2 separate regions of the Homo sapiens genome follow, and region 1 is linked to region 2. The links come from fine-mapping of genetic effects on gene expression. A gene starts in region 2. The other region holds a variant in brackets. All regions are shown on one strand. Distances are from middle to middle. Region 1 overlaps LINC00658 (long intergenic non-protein coding RNA 658). Region 2 holds the start of PROKR2 (prokineticin receptor 2).

The links. PIP is the estimated chance that this variant, and not a neighbour inherited with it, causes the effect.
Region 1: its variant is fine-mapped to the expression of PROKR2 in prefrontal cortex (GTEx, PIP above 0.99).

The regions. Positions count from the first base shown.
Region 1 is chr20:5,432,556-5,435,463 of GRCh38, forward strand. It overlaps LINC00658 (long intergenic non-protein coding RNA 658), which reads right to left. Exons shown (of 5, transcript NR_038240.1): 3 at 1,617-1,850; 4 at 1,234-1,515; 5 at 1-83. Among named protein-coding and RNA genes, the nearest start is that of LINC00658, 12 kb to the right of the region's middle. The variant C/T (reference allele first, on the strand shown) is at 1,723.
Region 2 is chr20:5,315,618-5,318,525 of GRCh38, forward strand. PROKR2 (prokineticin receptor 2) reads right to left here and starts at 1,337. Exons shown (of 3, transcript NM_144773.4): 1 at 877-1,337.

The DNA.
Region 1 (2,908 bases), 120 kb after region 2:
GAGCCAGGAGGATTTGGACCCCGGGCTGCCTTCACAAGCCCACCTTCTGCTGGTCCACCTCCTCATCCCAGGATCTAAGGAACCTGAGGGAAACAAGAGCCCTGTATTAGTAAAGGTTTCCCAGAGAATAAATAGTTATAGATCAATAGCTATGAGATTTATTATAGGAATTGGCTCATGTGGTTATGGAGACTGAGAAGTACTCCCATCTGCTGGCTGCAAGCTGGAGAACCAGAAAAGCCAGTGGTGTAATTTGGTTCAAGTCCAACAGAGTGAGAATCGGACTAGCCTTGGGGGGACAGGGGGTGGGGGAGCCTGTGTAAGTCCCAGGATTTGAAGGCCTGAGAAGCAGGGCACAGATGTCCAAGGAGAAGATGGATGTCCCAGCTCAAGTAGAGGGAGTGAATTCATCCTTCCTCCACCTTTTTATTCTATTCGGGCCCTCAGTGGATTGGACGGTGCCCACCCACACGGGTGAGAGCAGATCTTCACCCAATCCACTGAGTCCAATTCCAACCTCTAGGGGACAGCCTCACAGACACACCTAGGAATCATGTTCCACCCACTGTGTGAGTATCCCTTAGCCTAGTCAGGTTGACACATAAATTTAGCCACCACTAGCCCTCTGTACAAGGCCACTGCCCCACTCCCTGGGCTGGCTTCTGATGCTGCCTGCAGGCCAAAGCACCAAGATCTTGGCTAGGGTCCCCATCCTGTAAGCCATGCAAGGACATTCCTTCCCTCCTGTCTAAAGCCCTTCACCCTTCTAACCACTCCGCTCTGGTGGCCAACGCTTTGAGGGGGTAGCAGAGAAAGCTGTGTATTCAAACCCCTGAAAGAGGATGTCCTAAGTTTGTCTTGGATGGAACTAAACCATCCCACATCCATAACTGTGGGATCCCTGCCATCCCGGAATTATCTTATATTCACAACTCCGACTTAAGGCACAAACAGAAGCTACTGTCTGACACGTTGGCCCTTGGCTGGTACACACAGAGTTGAACCATCTGTTGGGCAGTTTGCCCAAGGCTTGTCTTGCTTTTGGCAGCCCATATTTATCTACAATGGGTCTCTCTGATATGAGGGTAGACTTTGCTGGAGGCCAGGGTAACAGAGCATAGGAATTAGGCATGTGTCTCCTTCCTTGATTTTCCAAGATGCCTTTAGAGGATCCTCAACCTGCTGACACTTGCTGACTAGTAAAGCCCTTCCCTTTTCTACAATTGTACTTACGAATATCAGATAAAGGCAGGAAAGGTTGGGAACATGCAAAAGAGCCCCTAGCAGCTGTGTGGGGAAGCGGACAGCTCCCCTGTGGGGCCTGTGATGGTGCATTGGTATCACGGTCTTGTGTGCAAAGAGGCCGGGACTGTTCTTCCCACTTGCTGGATCAAAGAGGTGGCACACCTTGTTGAAGGTAAAAAGAGCCAAAGGCTTAGAAGGAACTTCCATGAGACTCTCCCTCTCCTCTATTGGTGCTCACTTAGCTGAGAATATGTACAACGATATCCTGGCCTGGGACAAAACAGAGCAGGTGCTAAGAGGATCACGGCTGTCACCTGATATCATTGAAATGTTTGGGGCAGGGGGTCCTCCCTCCGGGCCTTGCCAGGTACCCCTCTACTGTGCTGCTCCATCTCACTCCTGCTGACTCGTCCACCATGGGACAATCCAGAAAAGCATGAGAAAAGCACTTGGCACTTCTTGTGTGGGAAGACATCA[C/T]AGTGGCCGCATCCCCCATGAGTGTTCCTATCTTCTGTGCCAGGGCTGCAGAGAACACAAGCTGTGGCTGCGGCACTCACTGCCTACTCTGCCTCCTCCATTCACATCTTCACACAGATGCCAACTGTCTGCCAAAGGGAATAAAAAATAAAAGCAGAGTGAACTTGACATCCTATACCTTCCAGCATTATCCCTCTGAACAAAGTAGAAATGGTGCAACAGCTGAAGAAAAGGACTCAGAGAGGAGAGAACGGAAGAATGATGAGATGTGATGAGTTAGTGAAGTCAGGCCCCAGGAAATTCCACACCAGCAGCATCAATCTGCCTTCTGTACCCAATGCTGAGGGATCAAAACTTGGAGCCCAGGGCTGGAGCCTCAGGATTCCTCCCCAAATCACACTGGCATGACTGTGTGCAACCCCGGAGTTGGGCTCATGTTTCTTCTGGAATTGTAGAATATAAGGCACAATTTATTCTATCCTTTCATCTTCCTGCTTTAAGTTTAGAAATTGCTGGTGGCTTTCCCTTAAAGGGAGTACATTTAAATTTTTTGTATTAAGTTCTTAAGTTTCTTAAGGCAAAATATTGATGGTACCATCACCATCTTCGTCTGAAAGTCATGTTCACATTATAGAAAAGACTTTCGCTAGACTGAGTCTTCCTCAGTCAAAGATTATATCTTGAAAGTGTATACTAGGTTAAGCAACACTTTTGAAATGTTATCATACTTTAATCAGAATTTCACACACAACACATTAAGAGTAGCCAACAGTGAGGTCAATGTCCTTATTTTCAAAAAAGCATTTTTCTCCAGTTTATTTTTATGAAAGGTCAGTGCCTTGGACATAATGTTCACTTCCATTCAAGAACATTTCTTGATAAGTAGAAATAATTTTTCAGGCAAAAACCTGATGTTCTAAGTTCAATAATAACCTGTTTCTACACTATGCCAAATTCTGGTGTGAAGGGAATTTTTACTGACATGGTAATTTTTTCACACATTTTATGATTTTTAAAAAATAGCCAGGTGTGGTAGCTAACACCTGTAATCCTAGCACTTTGGGAGGCTGAGGCGTGTGGATTGCGTCAGCCCAAGGGTTTAAGAACATCCTGGGCAACAAAGTGAGACCCCGTCTCTATTAAAAAAAATCATAGGATATCCAATAGTCAACAGTTCTCTGGTTTC
Region 2 (2,908 bases):
CTGCGAGGGGAGGAGAACGCCGAGGGACAGGAACTGCGCGCCAGCAAAAGACACCCTAACCTGGGGTGCGCCCGCCAGCTGCTTTCCCAAGGTGAAAACCTCCAAGAGGCGAGATGCAAATCCCAGTGGCGTCCACACCCGGAGGTGTCTTCTCTCCAGGTCGCCCCTCCGTCTCATGCGACACCCCAATCCCCGCAGCCTCTGCTCAGCGTGGGACCAAGAATGGGGAGTCCTACCCCTCCTCGGCTTTCCAGCCCCCTAACCCAAGACAAGAGGGCGCGCGCCCGGGCTGGGACAGGTCCCAGCCGCATTTTCGTAGATTGCACTCCCCGCCCGGGAGCGACCCGTTCCAGCAGCCCCCTTCCCGCCCCATCAACGCGGCCGCACTGTCGGCGTCTAGAGGCGACATCCTGGCAAAGACAGGAATCAAGTCAGAAATTCAGGCTCTAGAAGCAAAGGCTGCGGTGCCTCCTGGCTGGAAGAAAACGGCGGGTGGGTGGAGGATGCGGTGCGCGGGAATTTCCCCACGGACGCTTGCTGTTTCCTGCTCACCTTTCAGGAAGGTGCCCCTCTACCTGCACCCTCCCCTGCAATTTGGAGCTCGTCCGCGAGCTCAGCTACCCGCTGGCTCCCTCTGCCCGCGCCCGCACACCACAGACTCCGCTTACCGTACCCTACCCGGTCCTAGAGGGCCCAGAGGGGATCTCCTGAAACCAACTCGCCTGCTTGGAGCCAGCCCCGACGCATATCTCGAGAGTGGCGGGAGGCAAAGCAGCCGGAATGCCCGAGAAAAAAGTGGGCGTCAGAGGCCCTTGTCCTAGCGACTCCCCCACCGCACCGACTGAGTCCCGGGACTGCAGGGATCTAAGCCCTTACCTGTCTCGGCGCCTCCTTTCTGTGCGCTCTGCTGCTCCGGAAGCCGGATCGAGAGTCACAGTGTGGTTGGGCGCAGGCGGGCCGCTCGGTTTTCACCTCGAGGACCCGGACTTGCACTTGCAGAGCCGCTGCGTGGGGGATGTCCCTCTTTTTTCCTCGCCCCGGCGGGCTCCTCCGGCGTGTCAGGGTCTCTGGGTTCCAGCTGGAGTTGGCGCTCCGGCCCCACAGCTCTTTCCAGCGTCTCGGACCTGTGCGCCCCGCCCCGCGCTGGACTCCGCCCCGGGGTCCCCGCCTGCCTCCTAGTCCAGGCCAAGGGTGGATGCCCAGCTCCCCCACCCCACCGCGTGCTCTCGGGCTGGTGCGTCCAGGGCGCGGGCACCGTAGCTCCGGCCGCGCTGACGCGAGTCCCCGGCAGCGGGGGCAGCCTCTCGCACGGATTTCAGCGCCTTCGCATCCCGTCTGAATCGGACCACACAGTAGCCGGGTTTCTACCGTGCGCTTGGGAACAGTGAGCACCGCCCTCTGCCGCCAGTCGTGGCACCGCACCCGGGTCGCGCGCGCAGGAGGGGAGAGTCCTGTCTTCCGGAGGTGCCCAGTGCCAGCGTCCGCGCCCACTAGAAGGTGACCCTTTCAAGGAAAGCCCGGCTCCGACGAGTGCGGTGTGGGCCTTTGGAGATGGCGGTGAAGGAGGAGGCCCCCAGGAGGAAGCTGGGGATGGGGACAGTTTGCTCTGCTCAAAGCCCCTGAAGTCCTCACCCAAACTTTGCGATGACCACCACTATCAGATTCCATGGCCGTATAAAGACAATCCCAGGAGTGCCTCAGCCCATCTGTCCGGAGAGTCTGGAGCCCTTCACTTTGCTTCTGACAGGTTCGAAATCCTCCCACGACCTTCCTGGTTAAACACAGGAACTGCCCATTCAAATGACTGGTGCCCAGGAAGCTCTGGGCATACAGGATTGAACCTGTGGCAGGACCCTGAAGGTCTAAAAAGGTGTTCCCCATCGTTAAACCCCAGCCAGCGGATTATTGGCAGGTGGGAACATGGACTCCACTTTGTCAGAGCTTCCCATTGTTTTCAAGAGAATCTGGAATTCGAGAACTTTAAAAATAGTCTTTGGGTTCGTTAAAGCAAAAATCTTGTTTTGGTCAAAGAGAACCTGTCTCAGACTGAACACAGTCCACAAGGCTGCCAATTAAAAATTTTTGGATAAATGAACTTCAAACTCCTTCAGGTTGTGACATTCTGTGATTCTGCTTTTCCCACCTTACCTGGAACCTGACCCCACTCTCCCTACCTCTTAGCATCTCTCCCGCATGATCAAAGGCAAGAGAGCCAGCTGTTTGCTTTCCTCCTGGGGAGGGGCTGCGATTGGGCAGGTGTTCTACATGCTCAGGGCAACTTCCAGATATGGAGGCAAAAAAGCTCTGTTGCTTGAGTGGGGGAGATGATGGGGTGGCCAGTTGTACGCCCTGGACACATTCTTTGCAATAGTGCATACTTACCAACTTCAGCTAGAGGCTTCTTCGCTCATGGACCATGCCTGCCCTATTCAATGGGGGCAAACAGACCCCTGGGACCATCTGCCCGCTGGTGCTTTCATGGAATCCTCTGAGATGAGTTAAGGCATGGTTGCTTCCACACAGATCTGGCGACCCACAGATGTCGCTGTAGTAACTCCAAGTCCTGACCACCCTCAGCAGAGTAGGAGCTTTTTCTGGGGATGGACATGTGGTCCCCAGGGAGACAGTGGGTGCTTAGAAAACAGTGCAACAGAGTGCTACGGGGAGTTGTCTTAGTTTAGGTTTCCCCCAAGGAGACTCCCAGACAAAGACCTGAGTGCAGGTAGTTTATTGGGAGCAGATCCCGGGAAGCACACACAGGGGGAGGGGAAGTGAGGCAGGGAAGGGAGAAGGGCCCATACACGATATGCTAACGAGCAGGGTGCCACTGCGGCTCACTCCAGTTGACCTGCAGACCGTGTAGAACATGCCTCATGGTTGTTCACAGCAGCGCGGGGAGGCTGGACAT